Regions from separate parts of the Homo sapiens genome. Here regions 1, 2 and 3 are each linked to region 4. The links come from fine-mapping of genetic effects on gene expression. A gene starts in region 4. Each other region holds a variant in brackets. All regions are shown on one strand. Distances are between the middles of the regions.

Region 1 (7,838 bases), 260 kb before region 4:
CGTAGAAGTAGCAGCTCCTGGCTTTTAAGATCTCCCAAGGAAGGTGAGGAGAGAGTCCTGGAGCTCCAGGGGCTGAGCTCAGAGTCACAGCCAGTCTCTGGCCATGGGCCAGGCATCTGGCCACTTCCTTGGGAAGTCCAATTGCTCATAAGTTTCCATCTTTTAGGGTGAAATCCAGACTCTCTAGCCTGGTGGTCAAGGCTGGGTCATGGCCACCATCCAGCTTTATCTCTGGATAACACTCTGGTGCTGCTCTATACCTGCTCCCCTTTCCCACCCAGGAAGTTCCACCCCAGTTCTCTCTGTTGATGTAGGCAGCTTCCAGGAAAAGCCACCTCTATTTTCTTCTCAGAGGTCTTGCCAGTGTGCGTGCTCCCATCAGCTCCAGAAAAGCTGGCAACTTTTCTGCATCAAATCTTGGGTGTTTCTGCCCCTACCTTGGGTATTTCTGCCTCCTGGGTCTCTTTCTTATCCACCTTCCTACAATCCCCCTAGTAAGGCAGACCCCCTTTGCAGGGTGAGGATGGCAGTAATGCAGCATTTCTGTGCCATTACTTACAAAGACAAATGGCCTGTGAGCCTTTTAGGATGTAATTTAAAAGCCATTTGTCTAGCAGTAATAACTGGAAATGGAGTTCCACTGTAGGCCGGCATGACTTCCTTTAGGAGCGAGGGATCTGCTAATGGTGTATGGCTGCCCCGAGGACTAGCTGGCAGTGGCTGTGTCAGACTTACCCACTTTTTCCACTGGAAGGACCTGAAATGGGGAAAATGGCATTTTGAGGGGACTGTGAGCTCACATAGGGCTTTGGAGAAAGGCAGATACTTTTCTCTGGAGCCCAGCGTGGAAAGTTCCCAGTTGTTTGTCTTATACATCGAGAGGACCAGAAATAGAACTAGGTTCAGAGGGGTGGGGATTATGACCATCAATCTCGCGAATTCGAATCCTTGACGTCTGGAAATGTTGGGCTTTATCTTTGTCCTCTCTTTTTTAAGAGATTGCAGGCAAATTTGAATTATATGGCTTTGATGCACCTCAGAAGTAAAATTTCTCAGAACACTGATGCTTTTTCCTTTAGACAACAAAGCTTTTATTTTATTCATTCAGGATAGACAGTTTGAAAAAAATAAATTACTTGTGCCTCTTTAAGAGAATTGTTGCAGAGACAAATGTTCACTGATTACACATTCTTTTGAATGTCTTTCTCTGCTCTTCTTTTGTTCATTACGTGCTATTTTACAGTTACATTGTTTTATCTATCTTGGTGTTTCATATATATTTACTCCTTATTTGGCTGGGAAAAAAATTGATGGAAACATCCCAAATGGTAAAATAAATGATAGCATGTTTCCGCCAAGGGCTACTTTGTGGCCTTTGAAAATGAGGTAGGAGACTGTTGATACAGAAATTGGAACTGTGGAAAGAAGTTTGTGCGGTATCACTAAGTGATATAAGCAGGCTGCTAAATAGTGTGTACATCAGGATGGCCCCTATGCCTGGGAAATCTTGGTGAGCTCTGACTCCAGACCATTCAAATCTATGAATGAAGATGCCAAAGTACTTAGCCTTAGGTAAAAATTCTGTGCACTCAGTTAAAGGATTCCACACAAAAGAAGTAACATTCACTGATTACCTACCACGTGCCAGGCACTATTTTAGGAGCTTTCCTACATGATCTCCGTTAATCCTGATAATCATGCTCTAAGGTTATCTTTGTTCAAGATGAGGAAGCTAAAGCTAAGAGAAGTTGCATCACTTGCTCAGGTACACACAGCTGACAGAGAGTGGAGCTAGGATTTGAATCTAACATAACCAGCTGCAAAGCCCATGTTCTTTCTCTTACCCAGTGATCTACTGCCTCAATAATGCCGCATGATGCATGAAAAGCAAACACAAAACCTGAAGGGCATGCAACAATCAAGGTTTACTGCTCACGCCTCTGGGGTCAGTGGGGAGTTGGCTAGGCACTTTGGCTTGGCTGGACTCACTCAACGCGTCTGGTGGTTGGCTGGCCATGGCTGATCTGGGCTGGCCTTGTCTGGGGTGATGGGCGTGGCTCGGATCTGCTCCACATGTCTCTCATCCTTCAGCAGGCTAACTGGGCATGTTCTCACAGCAATAGCACAGGCGGAGGACAGCAGGAGGAATCACAGAGGCCCCTTGAGAACCTGACTGGGAACTGGTGCACTGTCATTTCTATTGGTCAAACCAAGTCACATGACCAAACTCAGTGTCAAAGGTGTGGGAAAAGGAACTGCAAAAGTATACAGTAAAGGGCGTGGACATGGGGAAGAGAGAAGGATTAGGGTCAGTAAAGCCATCAGCCACATCCAACAAGCTGCCTTCTTCAAGCAGGTGTTCTGAGAGCTTCATCTGGACATTCGCCTAAACTTTTTAAGATCTTGGTAAAGTGGCCAGGCGCGGTAGCTCATGCCTGTAATCCCAGCACTTTGGGAGGCCGAGGCAGGTGGATCACTTGAGGCCAGGAGTTCCAGACCAGCCTGGCCAACATGGAGAAAACCTGTCTCAACTAAAAATACAAAAAATAGCCGGGCATGACCGCACACAACTTTGAGCCACGAGAATCGCTTGAACCTGGGAGGCGGAGGTTGCAGTGAACTGAGATTGCACCACTGCACTCCAGCCTGGGTGACAGAGTGAGACTCTGTCTCAAAAAAAAAAAAAATTTTGGTAAAGTTATGTGTGGGTGGGAACAACAAAGTTAGGGGAAGAGGGAGGATGGGCGGGAGCAGATATGGATTTAACCAAAATAACTTCATTCTACAGTATTTTATTGACTGTGCTAAAAGGAGAAAATGGATAAATTTGTTAGATGCTGAAAAAATCAAAGTGAAGGTTAATTGACTGCAATACCTCTCAGTATCTTCAATATTACAATAAGCATTATGAATATATGGGAGGTAGACTGCATGTTTCCCAAACTAATTTAACCGTGAGAACAGCCTACCTATTAACCTCTCTTAGAAAAAGTGTTCTGGGAAACCCCAGTTTGGGAAGCACTAGACCAGATGATTTTTAAGGTGCTCTTTTGTGACATAGGACACACCCTGGGACGATTCAGGGAAGGAGAGGGTTTTTATTGTTGTTGTGTTATTGTTGTTTTCCACCCCATGCTAAATGGACCCAAATTCATGACCCAGAAAGAAAACAGATAGCAGAACTGCTTCCGTAGCACTTTCTTGGCCGGCTGGCAATGTATTACTGCTGCCAGTCCTTCTCGCTGCCTGGCTCTGGCTTTTAGATGTGGCATCTGTGCAGGAAGCTAAAGGGCTTCCAAAGAGTACAGTGTACAAGCTTTGTGAACGTTACAGTTGTCTGCAGTGGCTCACGCCTGTAATCCCAACACTTTGGGAGGCCGAAGCCGGTGGATCACTTGAGGTCAGGAGTTAGAGACTGGCCCGGCCTACATGGTGAAACCCCGTCTCCACTAAAAACACAAAAATCAGCAGGAAGTGATGGTGGGCACCTGTAATCCCAGCTACTTTGGAGGCGGAGGCAGGAGAATCTCTTGAACCTGGGAGATGGAGGTTGCAGTGAGCTAAGATCACACCACTGCACTGCAGCCTGGGTGACAGAGTGAGATTCCATCTCAAAAAAAAAAAAAGAAAGTTACAGTTGTCCCTTAGTATCCGTGGGTGATTGCTTCCAAGACCCCCTTCAGATACCAAAATCCACAGATGCTGAAGTTCCTGATATAATATGGGGTAATATTTGCATGTAACCTGCACGCATCTTCCTGTATACTTTAAATCATCTCTAGGTTACTTACAATACCTAATACAATGTGAATGCCATGTGACTAGTTGTTATACTGTGGTGTTTAGAGAATAATTGTAAGAGAAAAAGCCTGTCCGTGTTTAGTACAGACACAAGCATCCTTTTTGTGTTTCAAACATTTTCCATCCAAGGTTGGTTGAATCCATGGTTGTGGAATCCCAGATACAGAGGGCCG[A/G]TTGTATTCATCCCCAGCTGTTCTTGTCGCTGCCCAATGGGTATTAACATAGTTCTGTGTGCTTGAGATTGCTGCAAGCCTTTCCTTCAGGCAACTGCCATCATATGAATAAGATTGCAGGAGGAAAGGTAGCTCAATTAAAAGAACAATTGTCACACACTTGAGGAACACATGCTTGAATGTATCCACTATGCCAATGATAAGCAATGATCTTTTTCTATTTGGGAAGTGGAACCACAAGATTTCCACTTGTCAATCTTTGTTAACCTCATTCAAAGCCCTATGTGTATATGAAAATATCAAAGCAATATGAAAAAGAAAGACATCTGTAACTCAGACTTTTCACAGAAGTGGTGTGACTTATGGAAGAGGGGCCTTGTTGGTTGTGCAGATTCACTGTCTCTTGGCCGAATGACGACCGAGCATTGCTGTCCCATGCTCTGTCTCATGAACCTTCTGACTCACCCTGCACGCTCATCTGTGACCTGTCAACCACAAAGTGATGGAGGCAGATCTCAGTGGATTTAGAGGTTTATTTTGCCAAGGTTAGGGACACGCCTGAGAAAAAGAAACACAAGTCACAGTAGTTGGTGTCTGTGTCCTGTGCTTTTTCCAAAGAGGGTTTTGTGAACCTCAATATATAAAGGGGACAGAGCAAGTGGAAGGGGAAGAAAAAAGACAACAAAAAAGGAGAGTGAGTAGGCAATGAGGCAAGTGGTTACATTCCTGTGAGGTGCTGATCAGCTCAGTGAATCTACATTTTACACCTGAAAAGAAGGGAGTGGGGGAAAGTCGATTATGCATTCCTCGCTGGCTCAGTGAATCTACGCTTTACATGCGATAAAGTAGCATGTGAGATTACAGCTATCTGTTTGGGAACACAAGGAAGGCAGTTTTTGCATGACCCAGTTCCCAAGTTTAACTCTTCCCTTTGGCATAGTGAGTTTAGGGTCCCGAGATTTTATTTTCCTTTTCACAGACCCCTGTCTGGCCAGGACTGAGAGGTGATGATATTACCTTGGCTCCCTTCCACCTGGGAAGTGGGGGACTGGACCCTTGGACCTTGTTCTGCCCAACCCCCTTCCTTTGGAACTGCATCCCTTGATCTCTGACATGGGCCCTGCTATCCAGATATACCAGCCACACAACCCGCCTGGAGTCCAGCAGACAGTGGAGTGGGGGCCTGCAACAAATAACATCAGACAACTGGCTCTTACCTTCCTCTGGAAGCTCAACAACTTATGGCCATAGCTGTTTTAGCAGGGCTGGAAGTGACCCCATGGTACCATTCTTTCTGTAATCTTCGTGTCTTCTACGGGTACAGCCCTGGGTTTCACAACCCCTGCATGTGTGGTAGTGTGTGAACTGGTGCTCTTTGGAACTTTGGGTTCATTTACATAATGCATTTCTCAGGTGCATATGAGTTATGCATGAGCGTGTATTGTTAATGATTTGAAATTTAATTTGAACATGACAATTTTTTCTTACCCCTCAGTTTTCCCTTTCTCTCCCACTCTAGCTCATGCAACACTTCAAAAGAAATTTGGGTCGCTTTTCTGGATGCTGTGGGCTCCTGACTTTTTACTTAAAACGGGAGGGGAGCACTCAGAAGCCCAGGTACAGGGGAGCACCTTGTCCGAGGTAACTTAATGAGCCGGTGGAGGATCCATGGGTAAGCCCAGGATTCCCTGCCCCAGAAGCCCTCCCTCTCCCCTTCCTCATTCATGTCTCTGCTAGGAAAGCTAATTGATAAGGGGTGCAGGGCATCCCGAACTTGCTCTATGCTCAGGCTTTCCACCAGAAAAAGGCTCTATATGGATGAATGTCCTGTGATTACTTCCCTTTGCCGATTAGAATTCTCAAAAGTGGAGAGAGATTCTTTCTTGCTCACTAGAAGGTATGAGGTGAAGAGCTACCAAGGACAGACCTCTAATTAATTCTCATCAGGGTGTCCCCTGAGGGAATTCAGTTCTCTCCTTCCTCTGCTCCATCCTGTTCCCCACGTGTCATGACCTCAGCAAAAGACAAGTTCAGTTCCCACAGGTGCACGGGCCCACTCTCCTAAATGAAAGGGAAGAGAAAAGTGTTGAGGACTGATCTCCCCTCTCCTGCTCCCGAAAACAGGAAGCAGGCTGGGTAGATTGACTTGATACAGAGCTATCAGACTGCTGCTTGCTCACACGGGGACCTTTATCACTGCCAGTCATCAGCGCTCTGGTGAGCTCATGAATAATGCATTTCCCAGTGATTTCCTTCTTTATTTGCTAGCCTGAGGCAATATTGATTGAAAAACCGTCTACATAGCTGAGCTGTGTTGTGGCAACATTTATTGAAAATGATTTGGAGACAGAACACACATATGTTTATCTCTACATAGGTATGTTGTTGTCTGTTGTCTTTGGATAATGACATTTGTTTAAGGGGCCGCTGCAGTTATTCAGCAATGTTTTCAAATCGAAGGTGGATTCAGGTTGGAGCCCTGAAACAGCTGTATGGTGTGGTGGATCAGGAAGATGAGGCAGAGTGGGAGGTGGACTGGGAGGAGAAGATGGACGGGGAGGAGGTTGAGGTGGATTGGGAGGAGAAGGTGGATTGAGAGGAGGTGAATTGGGAGGAGGTAGACTAGGAGGAGGAAAAGGTGGACTCGGAAGAGGTGAGGGTGGACTGGGAGGAGGAGAAGGTGAGCTGGGAGGAGGCAGAGGTGAACTGAGAGGAGGTGGAGGTGGACAGGGAGGAGGAGATGGTGGATTGGGAGGGGGTAAACTGGGAGGAGGTGGACTAGGAAAAGATGGCCTGGGAGGAGGTGGAGGTGAATTGGAAGCTGGTGGGTGACAGGAACAAATACAGCAGAGCCAGTGAGGACTCAGGAAGGGTCCCAGGATTAGAACCGCAACATTAGTGGTCATTGTACTGAAAGCAGCTCCACTCAATGTGGAAGGAGATGTGCAAGTCATGAAATGGAGACAGCGTATGCGGAGCCTTCTTTTTTCACAATTTGAGATTTAAGAAAAGGTGAGAAAACGAACCCTACTGCTAACTAAGAAGACTTTTTGGGAGAACTGTAGCCTTCTTGAGCAGTTTCCATAATATGCCATATGTGAAAATACCTTCCCAACAGCAGGGAGCCATATGGATGGAAGAGTTTTAGGTCCTGATTATTAATAACAGCAGGATGCTGCAGTCAGTGGATAGGACAGACCTAAGCCTTGCTGGCCAGCTGCAGGGGGCTCTTCACCTCTCTGAACCTCCAGCGCTTCTTGGGCTCTCTCTAGAACTTCAGTAATGGTGGCTTCTCCACCTCCATCATTGACAGGCCCCAGAAAATGAAGACTTGAGCTTTGAATGACTGGGAGAGAAGAGTGTGAGGGAACACAGCTGAAGGAGCCTCCCTCTCACCACCCACTTCCTGTGACACCCTTCCAATACCAATCTGGCACTTGCTGAGCACTTGCTGAACTGTCTCTGGAGCTTTCAGAGGGAAAGCCCAGGGTGGTAAGGGGAGGGCTATACAGAGCCAGTGCATGCTTCGGAAGGAGAATCAAGTTCCCTGAAGAGGGTTCTCTCCTTGGAATCCCTGAAAGCTTTTGTGACAATATAATTAAGTGGGAGGCCACGACAGCCTGTCAAATTCTAAGTGTGCTTCTGGCTCACCCGAGGTGGTGGGTGGGGGAGTAGGGATGGGAGCATCAGGCCTGCTATCAGCACAGAAATTCCAGGTATGCGCTTCTCTGTCAGTTCCTGAGAATCATAAATGAAGTAAGCAAAGGCTCCGAGCCGGGAGCCTTCAGCAGATGAGGATGCCAGCTACCCACCAGCACAGGCCAGCCCCTGCAGCTTCAGCTGAACAGAGCAGCTGGCCTTGGC
Region 2 (7,380 bases), 45 kb after region 4:
CAGGGCTCTCTGTGACCCTGTCTGTGCTTGCTTCACAATTCTTCTAAAGTGCCCCCTTTGCTCTCCCCCTACTAGACCCGCATTCTATGGTCAAGAGAAAGAAAGGTGAAAGGCTGGGTCTTTTCATACAGTTTGACATTAATCCTGAGTCTTTCAGAAATGGTGAATTTAAAAAGCACTCCGCCTTGATAGTAATGAACACATTACATTTTTCTATTGATGTAATAGGTCTGCATTTGTACATCACCCAGGCAGCCCCCTAGATTTCTGCAGAGCCCAGCACTTTGCTGGCTCCCCACCACCCTCACTGAGGCACAAATGCTTGCAAAGAATGTTCCTCCCCAGGAGCGTCAGCAATGGCTCTGGCCTCTAAGTCGTCGGATGTCAGATTTCTTTTCGGAGATGATTATTTGCGTTGTCATTTATCCCGTGTATGTGGCTCAAATTTTACAATATATGTTACAATATATCCCTCTGTCCTCTGTCCTGACTACCAAGGCCAACTGAAGAAGAGGGGCCCATCTCTGAAGACTGGAAGCTGCTCCTCCAGCTGGCTTGGGATGTAGGTGGCCTTGTCTGCAAAAAGAGAGAGGGATGAAATCAGTGGGTTCTCGGGCTTTTGCAGCCCTCGATCTCCTGTGACAGACAAGAGCCTCTCTGCTGCTGCTACAGTTGTCACAGTGGAAACCCCTTCCCCAAAAGGCAAGTTGTCACCAGCCTAGCTGCCTGCATGGGGGCCTGGGTGACGAATGTCTTGCAATTATTCTTCAGTTGATGCCAGAAACAAAAAGTATATACCCCACACCAGTCCCCAGGACCCCTCTTAGCAGGGTGAGTCTTGGGGAATGCAGGCTCTGGGCCCATCTCTTACCACATGCCCTTCACCCACCCCACCCCTATTTCCCTGCAGATGAACCAAATTAAACTGAACAGCCTCAAAGGGAGAGGTTGCCAAAAGACAGTCTGAGGGGAAATGGGAAGAAGCAATCCCCCATTCTGCTTTAGGGCTGGGGACAAAAGGGTTCCTTCTTCCTTGAATACTGTTAACCACAGGCCTTTTGGGGGCCCTGCTGGAGGAGACATCCCATGGGCTCTCCCCTAAATCACATGAGATGACTCATCTCCACCCACATCAGCCACCCTGCTTTCCACACTGTAGAAACTTCTCTGTTCTTCCCAGACAACTGAATGCCAATATTTCTTAAGTTTCTTTCCTGCCAATAAATTCTGTTTTGTTCCAGGGGAAACAGGGTTCTACCATAAATGCTTTATTTGTGTGTGGTATTTACGGTGTTCGTCCACCTGTATATGGTCAGTGCTTTCCTTTTCACATCCAGCCAGCCATCCTGGGTCTTCCTGCAGGACGGACAGTCCAGAGACACTGAAACAGGCCCGTGCAGGGGATGGAGAGGATGTCCCCTGGCACTAAGACAGACCGCATTTGACCCCACTGTTCTCTGTCAGTCAATGGGGAAGGCACGTTTTAACAAGAACGGGGGTCCCTCTCAGGTTCTTTGAGGTGCCACCACTCCTGCTCTACCCACAAACCTAACACCTGCTCAATATCATGCCCATAAGCTATGAACACTGGGGACTAATCGAGAAGAGAGGTGAAGGGGAAACTGAGGCAAGGGCCAAGGCCAGGCCAGTGGGTATTGCTGCTTCCAAGGCAGCTGGGGAGGAGAGATTCCATTTCCTGAGCTAAGCTTGTTCCATTTCAGTTTGAACAGATGGAAATATAGTTCAATGTTTCAACATCATTTGCCTTTCTCGTGCTAAAATATTGATAAGTGCTGCCCGGGCTGATGCCCCCGCAGTTCCCAGCAGTAACTGGAGCATGATGTGTACTGAAGTGAGACATGGCAAAGCCTTTAACGAGTGTTTAAAATTCCTGGAATAATGCTCAACACTGGCTCAGCTCATTCGGCTCCTGAAAACTGCCCCCCCCCCCACCGCCCCCCTGTCGCCCCCTAATCGGCAGGAGGAGTGCGAGCACAGCCCGGCCCCCCTGCTGGTGGCAATTAGTGCGGCAGCTGCTCGTCTTCAGGACAG[C/G]AAACAATGCAGGGGGTGCCTGCATCTGCCGAGGCGGCTGAGCCAGGCAGGGAGGCTGGAGCACTGGGGAGGCAAGGACATGGGGAGCTGGCTCCTCCACCTGCAGGGGGCTGTCACACGGAACACAGACCCCAGGGAGAGGGAACACTGGGCGGGGCTGTCCAGAAAGGCAGATGAGGGAAGGGCAAGAAAAGGGGGAAGAACACCAGGTTTGGTGGCTCATGCCTGTAATCCCAACACTTTGGGAGGCCGACGTGGGTGGATCACCTGAGGTCAGGAGTTTGAGACCAGCCTGGCCAACATGGTGAAATCCCATCTCTACTAAAAAAAAAAAAAAAAAAAAAAATTAACTGGGCCTGGTGGTGTGTGCCCATAATCCCAGCTACTCAGGAGACTGAGGCAGGAAAATCATTCAAACCCAGGAGGTGGAGGTTGCAGTGAGCCGAGATCATGCCACTGCACTCCAGCCTGGGCGACAGAGCGAGACTCCATCTCAAAAAAAGAAAGAAAAGAAAAGGGAGAAGAAGGGAAAAGAGGAAGATGAAGAGGGTGGGGACTTAAGAAGGAAGGGGAGAGGAGGAAGAGAGGAAGTAGCCAGGAACAGCAAATCCCCTGGGAAGAGCTTGCCAAGCTCCGATAAGAGAATCCAATATGTGGCTGTAGAAAGGGAAAAAGGACCCTCAAGAGGGCCTCAGCCAGCGGCATCCCAGTCCTAAGACACCTCTCTGCAAGTTGCAGCCATGACAAAGGCCCCCAGACCCAGAGCTGAGAGGAAACCTACAGTGTGGACCTGGGATGTCACTTCCAAGCTTTAGAACAATCCAGGCTTCCCGGGCAAGGCTCTCCTGGGATCACAGTATCCCCCTTGTGGAGATCAAGTGGTCTAATTGTGGAATGTTAAACTTCTCACATACTTTAAGGTGCTGGGTGTTTGGTTCACAATTTTTGAAAACACTTGGCTGGGTGCGGTGGCTCATGCCTGTAATTCCAGCACTTTGGGAGGCTGAAGCGGGTGAATTACTTAAGGCCAGGAGTTCAAGACTAGTCTGGCCAACATGATGAAACCCCATCTCTACTAAAAATACAGAAATTAGCCAGGCATGGTGGTGGGCACACTAGTCCCAGCTACTTGGGAGGCTGAGGCAGGAGGATCACTTTAACCCGGGAAGTGGAGGTTGCAGTAAGCCAAGATCATGCCACTGCACTCCAGCCTGGGTGACAGAAAGATAATCCAACTCAGAAAAGAAAGAAAGAAAGAAAGAAAGAAAGAAAGAAAGAAAGAAAGAAAGAAAGAAAGAAAGAAAGAAAGAAAGAAAGAAAGAAAGAAAGAGAAAGAAAGAAGGAAAGAAAAAGAAAGAAAGAAAGAAAACTCTTTATAGATCTTTGTGAGATTGTTCAGAATAATGTTTTCCAGAAGGCCTATTTGAATCAAGAAGACAATGTCGGCTTTTTTCAACAGTGACCAGACTGTGAGAGAAAGCAAGGCTGTGCCCCAGAAAGCTGTGGGGTAGCCCCACTGGAAGGAATTCCAGGCTGGTGGGTGTATGGGACTTAAGTCAGTAGAACTCAGAGCCACTAACCGAAAGTATAAGCATTATTATTATACATGATTGTAGATTGATTGATTAACATTTACAACAGGAAAGAAAAAATAGGAAATCTACAATGGGTTGGAAAGCAAGACACAACAAACTCATTACTTACGCTCTCCCTCTGCCTTCCACAAAATAAAACTCAATGAAGTAATGTAAATATAACAATCTTATTTTCTGAGACCAAAAAAAGGGGGACATGTGATCTGACACACAGGATGACATTTATGGAAGCAAACAAGATGCAGTATAAAATTGAGGGTGTCAGGCCAGGAAGGTCCAGGATGTGAATACAGAGAGGCTGGGGCAGCCTGTGGCTGCTCTGATTGGACAAATCTTCATAGAGGAGGAACTGTCTGAGGCCAGGAAGTGCTGCATGGTCTGGGGGTCTGGGGAAGCTGGCAGCAGCAGCATCTTGTCCTCCATCCATAATCAGGTCAGCTGGGTGGGGAATGCCTGGCCCGGTGGCACAATGATACTCCTATCTATACACATTAGCTCCAGGCACCTTTCCTCACCACCGCGATGTTTTACCAGCTGGCCCCCGTCCAGCCACCCTTACAAGGCCAGCCAATCGTCCAAACCATTTCTATGTGGGCTGTTTCTGGGACCAGCACAGTCCCTCTGGGCTGAGGCCTTGGCAATGGGTCTGTCCCTCTGGGAAGGGGGCTCTGTCTGTGATTATTCTCCAAGTTCTTCAGCATCTGTCCATTGAGTGACTGGGGCGTCTGGTTTCCATGACCAGAGGTGGGGGTAGGAAGGAGGGGCTGTGGTTGTGGCCAAGGCGGAGACCCCCCCCAGAGGCTGGCCATCTTCTCAAGAGTTTACCTGCAAGAGTCGAAGAGCCCCACTGCGGCCGGGGCTGGCAGGGAGGGCAGCACCTGTGAGAAGACAGATGGGATAGGGAGTCCTGGGGTGGCCACAGTGAAATGAGCAGCTGCCAAGGACAAGGGCCAGACACCAGGGGCAGACCACATTTCTAAACTTGGTGATATGTTTCCAGCCCCACATCCAATCTGGTCATCACAACCAGTGCCCAGCTGTTGTCACCACCAGTTCACAGAGGAGCAAGACCAGAGCTCAGATTGCTGAAATGACAGGACCAAGGTTACAAGGCCTGCATTTCTCCCTGACACAAGGTGTCACCTTGAAGAATTTCCAACCCAGAGACACCCCTGTGCCTACAAAACACCTGGGATCTTGTTAAAATGCATTTTTCTTTTTCTTTTTTCTTTTTCTTTTTTTTTTGAGATGGAGTCATCACCCAGGCTGGAGTGCAGTGGCACAATCTTGGCTCACTGCAGCCTCTGCTTCCCAGGTTCAAGCAATTCTCCTGCCTCAGTCTCCCAAGTAGCTGGGACTACAGGCCAGCACCACCATGCTGGTAATTTTTGTATTTTTAGTAGAGACAGAGTTTCACCACGTTGGCCAGGCTGGTCTCAAACTCTAAAATGCGTTTCTAACGAGTCCCCAAGAGGTACTAGCGCTGCTAGGACCCCTCCCTCACCCTTGCACTGAGGAACAAGGCCATCAGGCAGTATTTTCCCATCCTGCCTATTCATAAGAATCACCTCCAGCACCTGGGGATTCCAATGCAATAAGGACTCAGAACTGTGACCGTTTGACAAGAGCCTCAGGTGCCCCTCATGGTCAGGTAAGTTTGGGAAACACTGCCCTAGAAGTGTGGGAGACATGTGGCCCCCACTGGGAAGCTTTAGCAGGGCCCCAGGGATGGGAACCTTCTTCATGGGCATCCTGGGTCTCCCAGGGGCCCTTCGATCCAGCAGGAGAATGCCTGCCTTGGCCCTGAGGGTGCTTCAGTGTTCAGCCTTGGCCGGCTTCTTCCCCTCTCTCTGCCTCCACCTTCTCATCTGCATTATGGGAACCAACATCCAAAGGCCAGGACATGACGGAAAGGGCCACCTAGAGAAGGGGGGCATTTGGAGAAGGGAGCTGCTGGAGCTGCTAGGGACAAGGCAGTGTCCATCCTGTGAGCAGGAGGTAGATGGGTAAAAAGGCAAGGCAGCAGGAAGGAGGAAGGAGGGGAAGCCAGGGTCATGCTGAGATGTAAAAAAGTGAAGATATCATACGTTGCCCCTACCCCTTGGCATTAGGAAACATTCAACCAAACAACCGAGGAGGAGACTAATGAGCAGGGATGAAAGGGGGACTCCAAGGTGAAGTCTGCAGAGCCCATCACTGTAGTCTTCTATGCCACAGAGCAGCAGAGAATCAATGTCTGGGAGGCTTGGTGCTGGGCTGGCAACCAGAGAGAGTGGCCAGGAATCCTGAAATGAAATGGAGGCAAGGAGGGCAGAACTGGCCAGGAGCACGGGCTCATCTACCATGTGGCTAGATAGGAAAAGCCCATGGGCAGGAGATAGACCCCCGGCTTCCCACTCCCTAACTCCACCCCCATCCCAGCCACCGTGTCCCTACTCCACAGCTGCCACCACCAGGCCTGCTTCCTCTCTAGAGGCAGTTGTTGAGCACATGTCTATGAGGAGAGAATGGGAAAGTCAACGTGATCCCATCAGTTATTCCTTTTTTTTTTTTTTTTGAGATGGAGTCTCACTCTGTTGCCCAGGCTATAGTGCAGTGGCCCGATCTTGGCTCACTGCAACCTCCGCCTCCCAGGTTCAAGCAATTCTCCTGCCTCAGCCTCCTAAGTAGCTGGGATTACAGGTGCCGGCCACTAAACCTGGCTAATTTTTTGTATTTTTATTGGAGATGGGGTTTCGCCATACTGGCCAGGCTGGTCTCGAATTCCTGACCTCAAGTGATCCACCCGCCTCGGCCTCCCAAAGTGCTGGGATTACAGGTGTAAGGCACTGCGCCCAGCCTGTTTTTTAATTAAATGCTAGTTCCCTCCACAAAGTTTCCACTCAGAAAAACACCAGCTGCTTCCACAGAGAAATCTTCCTGGCAACTGTCACAACTCCCTTTTCTTTCTACCCAGGGTAGGCCTGGGTTTGCAGTCAGGCAACTGACTATATCAAGTACCAAGAGAGGGCATGAGCCACCACGCCCAGCCCAGTTGTTCCTCTTTACACTGAGATAAATGGACATGAAGACTTGTGTTCAAATGCTTGATGTTTAAATTCAAAAAGAAGCAGGGAGAGATGGAAGGGTTACTCTAAAGTGTGTCAAAATATGATGAGTACAGATAGCACCAGGGAGTAACTTTCAGTACGAGGGTACAAACTGACCCCAAGTGAGAATGTTCTGTCTCAATTCCAAGTGCTTCATGGTGACATCATCGCCAAGGCCGCCCTCCTTCCTCAGCAGCATGCAGTGTTCCTCCAGGGCACCGCCTGTTATTCTCCTGCCCTTGCCCGAGTGGTACTCCCCCCTTGCAAGTCCCCTGACTGCTTCCCTTTCAGCTGACCCCAGAGAGTCCTCCTGTTGCTCCAGGCAACAGACAGTCTGCTCAGATGCTCTCCTGTCCCCTCCTTTTAGGTGGTCCCCTCCTTTTAGGTGATTTCCACGGCTCTGGGTTCTGCATGCCCCATCAGGGTCACCTGTAGATTTCTCTAGGCATATTCTGTGGCAGGCTGGTAATGCCTGTTTTTTTGTTTTGTTTTGTTTTGTTTTTGAGATGGAGTCTCACTCTGTCGCCCAGGCTGGAGTGCAGTGGCACGATCTTGGCTCACTGCAACCTCCAACTCCTGAGTTCAAGCGATTCTCCTGCCTCAACTTCCCAAGTAGCTGGGACTATAGGCACATGCCACCACGC
Region 3 (7,838 bases), 310 kb before region 4:
TAACTCACATTTGCGACTTGCACGGTGTGAATTGTGGGTGTCCTCACCTGTCCTGAGACTAGCCAGCTGACTGTTGCCCAGAGCTAGCAGGCATAGCCAGCTGAAATTCTGAAAGTGGATTATGCATGGAGTAATGCTGTTCTCAGGAAATCAGTGATTTATTTTATAATCTAAAATTTAAACGTTTTAATATACCTCCCAAGAAGATACCCAGTTCAGAAAACTGCAGAGGAGCCATGGAACTCAGCAGAAGGCCAGCTCCCTCTCTGGGAGGCCGCCTTCAGGAAACCAATCGTCCCCCCACCTGATTCCAAAGGAATTACAGAAAAATGGAAAGCCAGGAACAAAAATCATAAATCATATTTTCAATATGACCTTGTAACGTTATCCATGGATGTTACCTCAGACTTCGGTGAGTGCAGGGGACTAATGCTATCCATTTATGAGTGATGCCGAAACTGGAAAATGAAAGACAATTCCAAATGCACTGAGATGCTAATGGCACATTCAGTGTCTGGAATTCTATTTTATATTAATGAGAATTATTTTTGTTAATGAAAATATGTTGAATGTTCATTACTGTTGAAAAATAAGTTTCTCCTTTATTTCTCTAAATAGGTGTTAAGTATTTAAAAAATATTGTTTTGAAAGCCCAGGATCATTTGTCTCCTTAAAGTGCCTTAAGCACCCACCAAGTGGCATTCACTTGGCAAATCATTGGTGTGAAGTCTAGTGCTCAGCCTTGCTTGCCATGAATGGCATAACTCACATTAACCAAACTCGCACAGGCACAGGCTGCTGTGTAAACCAGAAGGCCAGCCTGCATCTCAGGGGGTAGAATCCAGGCATTGGGAATATGTACGTACGTGTGTCTCTGCACCTAGGTATGAGGACCTGTGTGGTGACAGGTAGGTATTCCAGAGAGGGAAGTGCTCCTGCCTCTGTGCACCTAGACAGTACTCGGGTGAGCATCAGTCATGCCCCATGTTTCTCCCTTTCCCGTGTCCACAGGGATGGTTCAGCATCTTTGCCACTATCTGCTGGGCCCGAAGCCATTCTGTCTTACAAGGACCTCCATTCTACTCCTTTATGGGTTGGTTTTAACACTCAGGGAATAACTTCAGGTTTCTAATCTCTAAGATTAGAGATTAGAGAGAGACCAATCCCCAGCTTCTGAGATATTTAAGATGTATTTTGGAGCAGTAATAAAAATACAAATTGTCATGCCTTACGTGTACATGGTGACTTGTAGATCCCAACGTATCTTCTGTTTCACCATCTCCTTTGATTTTCCCAGTAGCCCTGTGGCCAGGCTGGGAAGTGTTAATCCACATTCTGGTTTTAAGACCTGCATTTCCCATTGCCTACAAGTGTTTTCACCTGACGGCTTCACCAGGGCCTTGCAGTAAGCGTGTCTGAAATATGCTATGTGTTTCCCCACCCGCTTCTCTTACTCCGGTGGCCTGTGTTTTTGTTCGTTATCCCATCTTGTTCCTGATGGTCCAAGCTTGCACCCTTGGCATCCTCGCTGGCCTGCTGGCATCCTCGCTGGCATTCCCCTTGGCCTGCTCATCTGGCCAGCTCCTCAGTCCTGCTGCTTCTGTCTTCGATAGCTCCTTGAGCTCAGCCTCCCCGTCTTGCTGCTTTTCTCACTGCCATCTGCTTTCTCCCTTCTCTCCTGAATAACTGCAGGTGCCTCTTAACACATCATCCCTCTTGTCCTGGAAGTTGGATTAACCACCCTAAAGCGTAGCTCTCATTGGTCACTCTCCTGCCCACAGTCCTCCAGTAGCTCCTACAGCATAGTTTATTCCAAACTCCTGAGTGGCATTTCAAAACCTCCTGATGTGTCTCCAATCAACCTTTGCAGTTTCATCTCCTCCTCTGTAACCTACATGGCAGCTACATTGGGTCCTAGGTGCTCCTCAAGCCTCTCTCAGGCTTCTCCATCTCTGTGTCTTTAATGTCACTGCATTAGTGAAAGGATTCCCTCTCATTCTGGCTTGCTGAAGTCCTGCCTGTTCTAAGTTTGCCCAGGTGTCCCTCCCCCTATAAAGCCTTCTCAGTATGTTACTTGGAGGTAGGTTCTTTCTTCTATGCATTCCCTAGTCCTTTCAAATGATCTTGGAGCATTGTCAAATTTGTCCTGTAGGTGGGAGGAGGGAGAGGATCAGGAAAAATAACTAATGGGTACTGGGCTTAATACCTGGGTGATGAACTAATCTGTATGACAAACCCCTGTGACGCAAGCTTACCTACATAACAGACCTGCACGTGTACCCCTGAACCTAAAAGTTAAAAGAAAGAAATTTTACAACTAATCACTAAGTTTAACAAGGTTGCAGGATGCAAGATCAACATATACAAATTAATTGTATGTTTATGTATCTACAGTGAATCATTGGACATTAGAATTATGAATAGTGCAATTTAAAATATCATTAGAAAATATCAAATACTTAGGAATAAAGCTGAAAAAGAGGTAAAAGATCTGTACACTAAAAACTACAAAATATTGCAGGGAGATAATTAATGGCATAATGAAATAAATGAAGACATATACTAAAAACAAAAAACAAGTTTGCCTTGTATTGTGGTTACTTATGTTGAAGCCTTAATCTTTTTTCTTTTTTTTTTTTTTTTTCAGACAGAGTCTTGCTCTGTCACCCAGGCTGGAGTGCAGTGGCGCAATCTCGGCTCACTGCAAGCTCTGCCTTCTGGGTTCACGCCATTCTCCTGCCTCAGCCTCCCGAATAGGTGGTATTACAGGCACCTGCCGCCACACCTGGCTAATTTTTGTATTTTTAGTAGAGACAAGGTTTCACTGCGTTAGCCAGGATGGTCTCGATCTCCTGACCTCGTGATCAGCTTGCCTCGGCCTCTTGAAGTGCTGGGATTACAGGTGTGAGCCACCGCTCCTGGCCCCTTAATCTTACACACTAAACGACAAGCCCCTTGAGGGCCAGGACTGTGTTTTTCATCTCTGCAGGCACTGAGAGAGCCTATCAGCATCCTTATACATGGGGCCAGCTTGATAAACATTTGCTGAGTTGAGCCAGTTCCCCATCTGGCATGCAGAGAGACCGAGAGTCAGAGAAATTAAACAGCTTGCACCAGGTGGGAAACAACACTCACAGCCCCCAACTCATAATGCAATCTTTCTTTCCACTACCCCAAGATTGACTGGATAGCTGGAAGTCCCATTGGCCATTCAACAAACATTCATTAGGTGCTAACTACGTGTCAGGCATTGGGTGCCCAGGATACAACAGTGAACAAGACTGCCTTAGACCCTGCCCTCATTGGAAATTTAGCCTAGTGGGGGAAGGCAAACCTAAATAAATGGTAATTAAGTGCTCTAAGGGTAGAAGCAAAAAGTGCCGGGATAGAAAATGGGGATATGACCTGGGCTGGAGGGGGTTGTGGGATAGTCAGGCAAAGCTTTCCTGAGGCATTGTTGTTTAAAACAGCTAGTTGACAAGAACCAAGGAAAGATTGGTTTTCTCGCAGCGTATTGAAATGCCCTGAGGCAGGAAATAGCTTAAAAGAAGGCCAGGGTGGCTGGAACCTACAGGGGAAAGGAGACATTGGCAAGAAATAAGGTTGGTTAGAGAGGGTGTCTGATGGCAGAGAGAGAGGCCATTTCGAGGCCACTTACAGGAGGGGCTGTGGTCAGAAGGGGGCATGGAGAAGTGGGCAGACACAGAGTAGATAAAGGAGATTGGAGAGAATATTACTGGCATCATCAGGCAAAAGAGTATGGAGGTGTAGGGTAGAAAGGTTACAGCACGACAGAGGGGACTGGATGGACAACCACCCCCAAACAACCCTCTGTATGACTGCAAATGGTGAGCCCACGCTTGGAAGCGGGAGGCAGTGTTTAATGCCTTTTCCAGCTGCTGGTTTGAGGAGACTGGGTAGAGAGGACAAGTAAACAGAGGCCTGGGCAGCACCTGGAGGCCTGGTATTATCCCCAGTTCCTCCATACACTTCTGTGTCGCCTTTGCAGGATTTGGAGCCTCTTTGGTTTTCATTTTCTGAACCATATGGTGAAATTGGTAAAGCCTTGCAGCTGATGCCAGTAAAACCCTTTAAATTCTCTAACAGAATAGGACTCTCAACATCCTCTAGAGAATGACCATTATTTACACTCTTCTAGTTATTCCTTTCCTTGAGAAGGGGATTCGTGTATCAAAGAAAATGCTAATTTTAAAAAAAAGGCCAATTGACAGCTCTTGGAACTCATCATGGCAGACTGGCCTTTGCAAGGTGGACAAACCCTCGCAATTAGAAAAAAAAAAAATGCAGCCAGCACTCATTGGATTAAGAGTGTAGAAAAGCAAATGTGTTTGAATCTTAAACACATCATAATTTTAAGCATCCACAAGTGTTTAGAAAGTGTTAGCCGCTATGAG[C/A]GCATACATCTATTCACTAGTTAAACATCATAACCTGTTTCTTTTCTAAACACATGGGCAGGAGAACAGAGCATGGTTAACATGTTAAACACACTGACATGTTTACAATGTGTTGCAAGAAGGTGTTTAACTTTTTGTGCTCCAAAGCTAAACACTTTGGAATTACAGGGCTGGCTAATTCCGCCTACAGTTAACATGGCTGTTGCCTACTGGTCCCTTTGGCTTTGGGCAGAGCACCTTTGGGAAAGCAGACCACGTAGTGATGACCTGGGATTCATAAAGAGCAGCCTGGGCTCCTTACTGCAGGATCTTGGATGTTGATGAAATCTGTGTTTCTGAAAACATATCATGAAAGAAATTAGAGTCAAATTCATGAGTTGCTGGACCGAACTCATGCTCCAGATTAGCATGGCTGCTGTTTCCATGTGCAGGTGCACAGGCTATCCTGCTGGTGAGGGCTTTCCAGGAGACTCCAGACATAGGCAAACTATGGCCTTGGCCTGTCCTACACAGTGGCTCATACTTTCATAGAAAATGATTAGATCCCCAGAAGCTAGATTGAAAAGAGAGATAGAGGAGAGAGGAAGGAGAAAGAAAGAAGGCAATGAATATTCTTTTTCTCTGGCTGCTGTAACAAATCACCACACTACTTGGTGCTTAAAATGATATAACTTGATTATCCTTCAGTTCTGAAGGTTAGAAGTCCTAAAGGGGTCTCTTTGGGCTAAAGTCAAGGTGACTGCAGGACTGGTTCCTTCTGGAGGCTCCAGGGGAGAAGCCGTTTTCTTGCCTTTTCCAGCTTCTAGAGGCTCCCTGCATTCCTTGGCTTGTGGCTCCCTTTCATCTTCAAAACCAGCAATGGCCAGTTGAGTCCTTCTCATGCTGCGTCACTTTGATTCTGCCTCTCTTGCCTCCCCCTTTCACTTATAAGGATGTTTGTGATTGCAGTGGGCAATTCTGGGTAATCGGGATACCCTCCGTAGTTTAAGATCAGCTGATTAGCAACCTTAATTGCATCTGTAACCTTAATTCCCCCTTGCCATGTAACCTAACATATTCACAGGTTCCAGAGATTAAGACAGAGGCATTTTAGGGGGCCATTATTCTGCCCATCACAGGGTGTTACCAAAAGCAAGGGTAAGAGAGAAAGAGGATAGAAAAAAAGGAATTATACTAAATTATGCTAAATTGAAATCCTATTTAGCCTCATAAAATCCCTCATATCGGGGTATGGGCTAAGCTACTATAACAAAAGGACCCCAAAATACAAGGCGGATTATTTCTCTTTCATGGTAATAGTAGAGGTAGGTCATCCAAGGCTGTTATTGTGGTTCTGACATCCCCAAGCAGGTAGTTTCCATTTTCTTTTCTTGCTTTCTTTCTTTTTTTTTTTTTTAGACAGAGTTTTGCTCTTGTCACCCAGACTGGAGTACGGTGGCGCAATCTTGGCTCACTGCAACCTCTGCCTCCTGAGTTCAAGGGATTCCCCTGCCTCAGCCTCCTGAGTAGCTGGGACTACAAGTGCGTGTCACCACGCCAAGCTCATTTTTTGTATTTTAGTAGAGATGGGGTTTCACTATGTTGGTCAGGTTGGTCTCGATCTCCTAACCTCGTGATCCACCCTCCTCAGCCTCCCAAAGTGCTGGGATTACAGGCGTGACCCACCACGCCTGGCCTAGTTTCCATTTTCTAAGTCCAAGGAGATTGCTCCAGTTTTCCTCAACTTGTAGCCTGGAGGAGAGGAGGAAAAAACCAGAGGAGGCCGTGTGCATTCCTTTTAAGGATAAGATCTAGAATTGAATTTCTCAGCCTTGACACTGCTGGCATTTTGTGCCAGATAACTCTCTTTAGTGTGCACTGTCAGTGTTTAGCAGCATCTCTGGCCACTATCCACTAGATACCAGTGGTGACAATGACAAATATATCTAGACATTGTAAAATATCTCCTGGGAGGCAAAATCACCCCTAGTTAAGGACCACGGATCTAGAAAAAGTACACATGACTTCTGGTGTCATTCTGTTTCCCAGAACTTACCCATCTAAAATTGGAAGTTCTATTATTAAAGAGAGAATGGATGTTTGGGGACGACTAGTAGTCTTTTCATCTGTTTCAGATACTCAGCCTGCCAAATCACTGAAGTCCCACCTCATGTCTGAGACATCTGCCTGGAATGCACAGTGGTCCAGCTGCGGAGGGGAGGGGCTGAAGGTGGTCACCAGCGGGAGGAATTTCTAGAGTTCTTGGCCAAAGCTCTGGATGGTCAGCTTGTACCCTCTGTCCAGAGTTATCTGAGGGGACTGGGCAGTCACGCATTGGAGCCCGGCTTCCCAGAGCTGAGGGGGAACCAAAACATTTCTGGGAGCCAGCGGCTTGCCATTTCTATGTAACACATCATGAGATGTAGCTTGACTGCTTAGGGCTTTGGCCCAGGGGGCTCTGATTTGTAATCTCTTGTTCTGTTCTTAGTGGGGCCAGACTGACCTTGGGGACTCACAGGATAGATTTGTATAGGGTAGTAGGTTTGAAAGACATCTAGAACTGGGTTTTACATCTGTTTCTGTTATTTATTGGCTATATGATTCCTTAGCATCTCAATTTCCTCACCCATAAAATTAGGACAGTATTATCCCTTGCTAAAGTTTGTTTAGAGGATTAAATTAGGAAACATGAGAACAAGACTTAGGTGCCCTTTCTGGGGCTTAGTAAACACTTGATAGATGGTACTCATCTATTCCTTTATTCCTCAGACATTTACTGAATACCTCCAACGTGTAAGGTTCTATGCTGCATTCTGGAAACATGAGCATAGCAGGAAGCAAAGTAGATCTGGTTCATCTCAGTGGTTACATTGTAGTAGTTACTACTGTTATTATTATCATCATCATGATTCTGGACACAGGCCTAGAAGTGACTCTCTGCCAGTGGTAGGGGAAGGCTGAGTCAGCTGTTCCAGGGCTGAATATGTAGGAATGAGACCGGCTGGTGAGGCCCCGCTTGGATGTTGGATGGGGGATAATAATGGGGAAGACTAGTAGGGCAGAGCAGCCAAGGACTTGGTCCTATAAGCCAGAAGAAGAGAATCAGAAATCTCTGGGAATCAAAGGCTGTGAACTGAGTGGACACTGCCATCCCAGGACTAACAGATTGGGTGGGGAAAGGCCAACCATATGAAGGGAGGCCAGAGGACAGGGACAGGCAGCTGCCTGGCAGAGCTCCTTCAGCCCAGGTTGGAGGAGTTTGAAGGCCTGGCTGAGACACATTGCTAGAGCTACTCCCGGTGAGGCCAGGCTTGCTGATGGGGCAGGGAGGACTGTGTCTTTGGGCGAATGGGGTGCTCCATGGGCAGCGTAACAGCAAGTTTGGTAAAACAGGACAGCTCGTAATCTCCCTGTTCCACCGCTGACTTATCTATTACATCATAT
Region 4 (7,838 bases):
GAAAGGAGGTGTTTCAGTAAAGCTCAAATTTCCATGGTTCCGAAAAGGTTTCTCCCCCTAGCCATGGAGTTTCTCCCGTTTTTGCTGGATAAAAAGCAAGCACAAGCCTCTTGGGAATGGGTCTTTGGACAGGAAGGAGGACAGGGATTCCGGAGATTGGAGTGAGGTAGAACCAAAAGTTTCGGCACCCCGTAGGCCTCTCAGCAATTGCTCTGGGCACTGCAACTAGGGGGCTGAGATTGTCATTGGCTCAGGCTGGCTATTAAATCCTCATCCAGACACCTCCCAAGTATTCTGTTCTGTGGCAAAGACTATCGGGGAATGGGCCAGGCAGGGAAGGGGCTAAGGAGTGTGAGGAGACCCTCATTCAGCATGTAACCCAGCTACTGCTGCTACCAAGAGGTTCTGGCCCAGATGTGCTGGAACCAGTTTTCTACATACATGGGGGAGGAGGAGAATGAGGGGCATATTGACACACACCCATACATCGGGTAACGGTGCTCCAGGTTTTCAGTGCTTCCTCTGTAATGACTTTTCATATGGCACACAGTATGTTATCCACGGTGGCAGGCCCCATGTCTGTTCTGTTCTCTCTGTGCTGCTTAGTGTTGCCTGGAGGCTCCTGGCAGGTCTGATTCATGGGCTTAGGGCCCAGGGGCTGCAAAGAGGGCAGCACTTGGAGGAACAGTGAGTCTGAAGCTCCAGAAAAATCTGCTTTCACTGAACATAGGCGGGACCCAGTCCTGGGGGAAGTTTAATCTTAAAGCTTCATGGGTCAGAGGAGTGGCACATTCATGGTGAAGGCTGTGGCTGAGGTTGCAGAGATTGTATGCTTTTTCAGGGTTAGTGTTCTTAGACCCACCCCATCCCAGAACCAGCAGGAACTTGAGAGATTACCCAGGCTTCAATCTAATAGTGGAAGAGAATGAAGAGCAGACTGGGGACTGGCCCAGGGTCTCATACCAGGAAGTGACTGCCTGGTCTCACTCACCCACACCAGACCAGGGTGCTCCTCTGCAGCCCCAGCCTAAGCACGCTAAGATGTAAGATGGCCATTGCCAGGGCTGGGACCAGCCAGCCAGGTGAATCCTTTTAACCACGTAGCTGAAGGAGACGTGCTGAAAAGAGTACGTTGCACTTTTGTTGGAGGTCAGCAAATTGGGCTTTGAACCTCATCACAGTCTGCGGTAAATTCTTCTCCATGTCTCCCAGGGTCCTTAGATCCAACTCTGGGGCAGCCCCTGTGCAGCAGTGCATAGGACTCTGGATAGGGTGGCCTGGACACAGCAGACCTCCTCCCAGCCCACAGATACAGACTCTAAAGATGCCACCTGGATTTCTGCAGAAAGCTTCCCCTTTCTGCACCCGCACTGGCTTGGGACCTACTTTGTCAGCCCTGTGGCCTCATTCAACATGCCAGGGTAGGCCCCTGGAAGCTAAAGTCTTAAGAGGAGTCCCAGGGTTCCATTCTCTCATGCCTACAACACTCCCAAAGGACTTCCGGAATGCTGCAGCACAGGGAAAATTTTTGAAATCTTGCAGAGAAGGAAATAAACACAAAGGCATAAATATATGCCTTACCATAGACACCAAGCAAAACCAAAAGTTGAACCCAGGGCTCTAGACTCCCATTCCGCGCTCCTAGCACAAACTCCATAGAAAGCATAAAAGGGTGGGAAAGAAGGAACTGGCCTAGACTCGGGTTCCATAGCCCTAGACTGGCTGAGGGCAGAGCCCAGGATTTGTGCTGGCTTGGGTCAGGCACTGAGTATGGCCCTAGGAGCTCCTGGCCTGCAGCAGCTGAGGGGGGAAGAGGAGGAAACTGAAGGAAGTGGAAAGGACATGTCCGGGAAGGAGCTAAGCCCCGGGCTTTTCAAAACGTAGAGCAAGAACACACCCATCCTCAGTTCTCCCACCTTTGTGCGAGCCCTTCTCCCACAGGACCAGCACCACATGTTTCCATTGGCACCCTGACAAAGAAGCAAAAAACAGGACCCCCTTTTAAAGCACCTCATCCCGGAGCTCAGCGAGCCGGTTCCCAGGCTGGAGTGGCCAGGAGCCGAGCCGATCCCCAGCGGCGAAGCGGGAGGACTGGGAATCTTGCCTCCGTTCTCCTCCCCGACCACCCACCGGGGAAGCCCCACCACCGTCCTAGAGTCCCTGCCGTCGCCCCTCTCCCCCGCCCCGGTGGGCAGACTGCGGGTCTGCGCCGTCCGGGGTTCTGCGTCGCAGCTGCCGGCCGGAGTCAGCTTCCATAGAGGCCACACGGAACTGCCTGGCGCTCCTCGGGCTGTGGGACCCGTGGGGTTAAGTCTGAGTCCCCGCCCGGCGAGGAGCAGAGAGCGCAGAGTTGGGGCGGTACAGGCCGCCAGGCAGCCGGCGGGGCTAGGAGAGGGAGGAAAGGCGGGATCCTCCGGGAAGTCGATTCTCCGGCGTCCGCCTGCGGCCACTGCCAAATCTTCCCCATTTCTTTCGTCTACTCCCTCCCCTTTTCCCTCGAGGACCGCTGAGTCCAGAGTTTCTAGGATGGGGGTGGGGCGCTGTCAGCAGAAAAAGCCAAGTCTTTGGGCGGCACCCGAGCACGTCCAAACTCTCCCATCCCACTGGCCTGCGCCGGGGTAGAATGTGCCCGGTGAACAGAGAGCCTGGGAGGGACGCGGTGACCTGGGGAGAAGGGGAACCCTGTAGGGTCTGGGCGAGGCTGCAGAGCCCTCTCCTAGCCAAAGCTGCCCAAACTTTCTTCCCCTGGAGTCTCCTTCCACCCCTCTCCCTCCCCTTCCTCCTGGACACCCCCTTAAACGGTCTCCGCCTTCCCTTCTCTCCTCTTCTCTCCCCACCTCGATCCACCCCTTTTCGTCTTCGCCCGCTCCCCCCGCTCTCCTGTCCTCCTCCTCCCTCCCTCTTTGGGCATCCGCCCCGTCAATCTCCGCCGCCGCCGGCCCCAACCCGGCCCCTCTCCGCCTCCCAGGCTCTCAGAGCGCCCCAGGCTCCAGTAGAGCCGCCCTCAGTTCTGCGCGGAGCGGGGCGATCTGTCAGCGGAGCCGGCCGGGGGGAGCCGCCCGGCCCGCCGAGGCTCGGGTTACCAGTGACTGACAGCGTCTCCATGGCGAATAATTTGACTCCGACTATTGTCTGGCGCTGGCAGGCCCCGGGTCAGATAACCGGACCAATCAGGGCGCGGGCCGCCGCGCCTCATGCCCGCTTAGAATAATATTATTAAGAAAGCTGAGAGCCAGCTAGACGGGAGGGAGAACGAGTGAGAAGCGAGCGAGGGAACGGCGGGCGGGCGCGGAGCATGCGGAGCGGCGCCCCGGGCGGCCCCCGGGCTTGGGCGAGGGCTTGGGCCAGGCGCGCGGGCCGTTGGGGTTCGGAGCTTCGTGGGACCCGCGGCCGGCGCGGGGACGTACGGCAGTGACTCGGGGCTCACCGGGGGCCAGTGCCGGGCCAGGGGGCCAGCCCCGCCCGCGTCTCGGCCCGGACGGCCCGGCGAGGAAGCTCCCATGCGGGACCGCGCGGCCCGGTGAGGGCGCGCGCGGGCGGGCGGGGACGCAGCCGGCACCATGTCCATGCTGCCCACCTTCGGCTTCACGCAGGAGCAAGTGGCGTGCGTGTGCGAGGTGCTGCAGCAGGGCGGCAACATCGAGCGGCTGGGCCGCTTCCTGTGGTCGCTGCCCGCCTGCGAGCACCTTCACAAGAATGAAAGCGTGCTCAAGGCCAAGGCCGTGGTGGCCTTCCACCGCGGCAACTTCCGCGAGCTCTACAAGATCCTGGAGAGCCACCAGTTCTCGCCGCACAACCACGCCAAGCTGCAGCAGCTGTGGCTCAAGGCACACTACATCGAGGCGGAGAAGCTGCGCGGCCGACCCCTGGGCGCCGTGGGCAAATACCGCGTGCGCCGCAAATTCCCGCTGCCGCGCTCCATCTGGGACGGCGAGGAGACCAGCTACTGCTTCAAGGAAAAGAGTCGCAGCGTGCTGCGCGAGTGGTACGCGCACAACCCCTACCCTTCACCCCGCGAGAAGCGTGAGCTGGCGGAGGCCACGGGCCTCACCACCACACAGGTCAGCAACTGGTTCAAGAACCGGCGGCAGCGCGACCGGGCGGCCGAGGCCAAGGAAAGGTACGAGTAAGTAGACCTTCTTCGGCGCCAGCTCCCCGGGGCCCAAGGGAGGGGTTCGCAGGGCTTCTGCCGGTCCCCCGGAGAGGCCTAAACTGGGCCCCCAGGCCCGGCCACAGCCCAGCGGCAGCCCGGCCTGACTTGGACGATGCTTAGGCCTTTCTATGCCGGAGACCCGGCGAGCAGGGATTTGTCTAAAGCGGGCAGAGCAATTCAGGAAGTTGTCAACTAACTACTCGGTCGCTAGAGGAAAAGGGTGGAGAAGCAGAGAGCTTCGGGGCAGCGCAGAACTGTGGGCCTGTATCCCCTGTGAGGCAGGCACAGTAGGTCTGGTCATCCTCAGGACAGAGGGGTTTGAGCCCAGATGAAAGGGGATTTGCAGATTTCTTGCTGGTGGTGCTTCCCGGCATTTCCCCCCAGCCTTAGCTCCAGGCCAAAGTGTGATGGGGTCGGGACTGGGGCTGGAACTTCCCTAGAATGACCTGGATGGGGAAAAGCCAGGCCATGAATTTTCGTTGTCACATGGAGTTGAGAGCGGGTCCTTTATCTCCTTAGAAAGGATCCAGAGGTGAAAGGGAGGAAGTGTCAGTTCTGGGAGAGAAGAGACGCATGCCCTGTTTTCTGCCTTGCTAGAGATAGCCGCCCTTCCCTGGCACTCCAGGCCCTTGATGCCTCTCTCCTTAGGCCCTACCTCTGATGGGTAGGTCGGAATGTCTGCGGTGAGCTGAGAGGCACAGAGGGGCTGGGAGTTGGATGTCCTCAGGTAAACCAGGACTTCCTGAACCAGCCTAAAGGTTGATCATTAGGCCCTTGCCACTGCCTGCCCTATAACCCCTCAGGACCTCAAACCTGGAGAGAAACTTATTATGGGAACAGAATCCAGCCCGGGGTAAGAGCAAAACAGGACACCTGGGGTTGGTGATATGGGGTGTGTTCCACCCTGAGTTTGAATGATCAGGGTCAGAGGTGAGGGTGCTGAACCAGAAACATCTTAGGGGGAGTGCTGCAGGCTCAGATACTTCCAGGTATCTGAGACCCTGAGGTTGGAGTTTCCACAGTGGTGAGGTCTCAGCTGCCAGCCCTGTGGGAAGCTCCCTCCCAGGAAAGCAGAAAGAAAAACCCTCCCGAAGCTGGTGACAAGAGATCCTACCCAGGATTTTAAATATCCAAATCTGGGGAGGAGCTGTCAGTCAAAGGCATAGAAGGAGGTGGGTTCTCTCTGCTGGGTCCCCCTCCACCCAAACCGGCATGTGATCAGACTCCTGAAAACCTGGGTTCTCAGACCAGGCCCCAGATGAGAGCTGCAGATTCCCGGAGTGGCTGGTTACAATGGAAAAGCCTCGGCCTTCTCCCAGGGGCTGCCCTTTATCCCCCAAGCTTCTGGTCTCCGAGCTGACGTTTTCACTGTACCACCACGGAAAGGGAGTCCTCCATCCTTGGACCCTTGTCTCTAGGCCCAGCAAGGAGAGCCCTCACAGGGCTGCCCAGTTTGGAGCTACAGGGAAAGGACGCTTAGCCCCAGGAGCCTGTCTCCCAGCCAGGGGTCTCCCTCGGGCAGAAAAAGCAAAGGGAAATGAAGTCTTGTGAGAGGCCCTAAATCCCTTGACCTGGGATCCAGGGTTCCTTAACCTGCTAGCCCCACATCTACCCAGCAAACCTGGCTTGTGGAGCCTAGAGTGATCTGAAAATCCAGGCATCGTCTCTTCCTCCCGGCTCACCCCACAACTTCAGGGAACCCTGTTCTCCTGCACCTCTGTTCCTGAAAAGAAATATTGGGGAAGGGGGGAAAGAGGAAATATAGAAAAGATATTGATGAGATTGACAGCATGAGAGGTGGGGACGATAAGGGCAGAGGGGCAAGAGAAATTGGGTGTTGAGAGATGGAGAGAACGGGCAGAAAGGAGAACCCAGACCAGGTCGAGGAAATGGTAGAAACCGAAAACACCCGCAGGCCACAAGCCCGGGATCTGTCTCCCGAGGCTGGTGGCTGGCTCTGACTGTGACTGAGATGGCGCTGGGTGGTCTCGATGTCCCTGCTGACCCCGCTGCTTTGCTCCCGCACTTGCAGGGAGAACAACGAGAACTCCAATTCTAACAGCCACAACCCGCTGAATGGCAGCGGCAAGTCGGTGTTAGGCAGCTCGGAGGATGAGAAGACTCCATCGGGGACGCCAGACCACTCATCATCCAGCCCCGCACTGCTCCTCAGCCCGCCGCCCCCTGGGCTGCCGTCCCTGCACAGCCTGGGCCACCCTCCGGGCCCCAGCGCAGTGCCAGTGCCGGTGCCAGGCGGAGGTGGAGCGGACCCACTGCAACACCACCATGGCCTGCAGGACTCCATCCTCAACCCCATGTCAGCCAACCTCGTGGACCTGGGCTCCTAGAACCCATTTGCCTTGATGAGCTTGCCTTTTGTGACTTGACACTGGGGACGTGGAGTGGCGGTGTCCAGGGGCGCCCCGCCCCTGCGGCCCCACCAGGTACTGAAAGACCCGCAGGCTGAGCGGGTAGAACAGCCGGGTAGGGCAGATAGCTGTCTATGTTGGTTCTTGTTTGGGATTTATTTTCAACAAGTTACTTTTAGGATCCTTTTGGGGCTGGAGACTGAGTCTTGAACCACAGAAGGGAATAAATTATACACCACTGTCATTCTCTCTCTCCCTCTGTCTCTTCCTTTTACCCTCTCTTGTCTTGCCTTTTCCCCCTTTCCTCTTCCTTTCCCTTCCTTCTCTTTTCTTTTTTCTGCTTTCTGTCTTTCTCCCTCTCCTTGTATTGCTTTCCTTCTAGATTTCTAGCTTGCCACCGTTCATTCTCTCCTTCTGTCTCTCCCTTTCTCTCTCCTTCTCTGTTTCTCCTCTCTTCTCTCCTGCCAGTCTCTTGTACTCTGTGTCCTGGTCCCTCCGTATGTACCCCTGTCTTTCTCCTCCTGACTGGTGGTCTATCTGCCCCTACCTCTGGCCCTCGCTTTACCGGAGTAGGGGGTGGGAGAGGGAAGAGGAGAGAAAATACAGGGACTTTGAACCTAGGCCATCTCCTGAGGCCTTTTCCCTCGCCCATGTGGGTCAGTGGGAGCTGCAGGTGTCAGCTTTTCGTCTAGTAACTTAAGTGAGAGAGAAAGGGCAGCGCCACAGAAGCCCCTAAACGCCGCCTCGTCATACGCCCCTCCTCCTTCTCTCTTGGCGAGGCCCCGCCACACCGCGCTCTTCCTCCCGGGACTGTGACTACAGCGCTCCCGGCTGAGCGCGCCCCCCGAGCCGCCGACTTGCCGTCTCCCCGTAATGCCCTCATGTGAATGTTCTTCGGGAAATATTTCTGCTTTTATTTTATAATAAAATTAGAAATCATAAATATATAAATGGTTATATGCCACAAGGCCCGCGGGCCGGGAGTGCAGCTGTGTCTGATTTCCCTACCAAGACTCGACACCCCGGGTGGGCCGTTCTGGTTGGCGATGCTCTCTGGTGAGTCCCGAAACAGCCAGACGCCTTCCTATACACACGACTTGTGTCAGTCGCTAGGTGAAGGCACTGAAATTCCTGAAACAGCTCCCTCCCTTTTCCTGGCTGGGAAAACTCGCTGCAGAAGCGGGGAGGGGCAGCCTGCTGCCCTCCCCACACCAGCGACGCGCACAGCCCTTGCCAGCCTCTTTCTCCACCTCGAGGTCGAAGTGGAAGACGAGAGAGCTTGTGCCGAGGGCGGGTACGTGCCTTCGGAGATGCCA

Alleles and levels. Positions count from the first base shown, and alleles are read on the strand shown. Sizes are in standard deviations (SD) of each study's normalised expression. Not every link is listed here.
With allele G in place of C in region 2, the expression in pancreatic islets of the gene that starts at base 3,219 in region 4 is lower (moderate effect, 0.68 SD a copy in PISA).

Evidence for each region. PIP is the estimated chance that this variant, and not a neighbour inherited with it, causes the effect. A credible set is the group of variants that fine-mapping cannot tell apart.
Region 1: its variant is the best candidate, but not a certain one, in a credible set for the expression of SIX2 in cerebellar hemisphere (GTEx, PIP 0.52).
Region 2: its variant is the best candidate, but not a certain one, in a credible set for the expression of SIX2 in pancreatic islets (PISA, PIP 0.75).
Region 3: its variant is the best candidate, but not a certain one, in a credible set for the expression of SIX2 in lung (TOPMed, PIP 0.56).

What each region holds. Positions count from the first base shown.
Region 1 is chr2:45,261,631-45,269,468 of GRCh38, reverse strand. No RefSeq gene overlaps it. Among named protein-coding and RNA genes, the nearest start is that of LINC01121, 11 kb to the right of the region's middle. The variant A/G (reference allele first, on the strand shown) is at 3,975.
Region 2 is chr2:44,959,614-44,966,993 of GRCh38, reverse strand. No RefSeq gene overlaps it. Among named protein-coding and RNA genes, the nearest start is that of SIX3-AS1, 21 kb to the right of the region's middle. The variant C/G (reference allele first, on the strand shown) is at 2,053.
Region 3 is chr2:45,315,545-45,323,382 of GRCh38, reverse strand. No RefSeq gene overlaps it. Among named protein-coding and RNA genes, the nearest start is that of LINC01121, 65 kb to the right of the region's middle. The variant C/A (reference allele first, on the strand shown) is at 4,416.
Region 4 is chr2:45,004,833-45,012,670 of GRCh38, reverse strand. It overlaps SIX2 (SIX homeobox 2), which reads left to right and starts at 3,219. Exons shown (of 2, transcript NM_016932.5): 1 at 3,219-4,120; 2 at 6,186-7,489. The coding sequence starts at 3,561. The coding sequence ends at 6,501. RefSeq lists enhancers at 2,147-2,746, 3,751-4,524, 5,798-6,341, 6,342-6,885.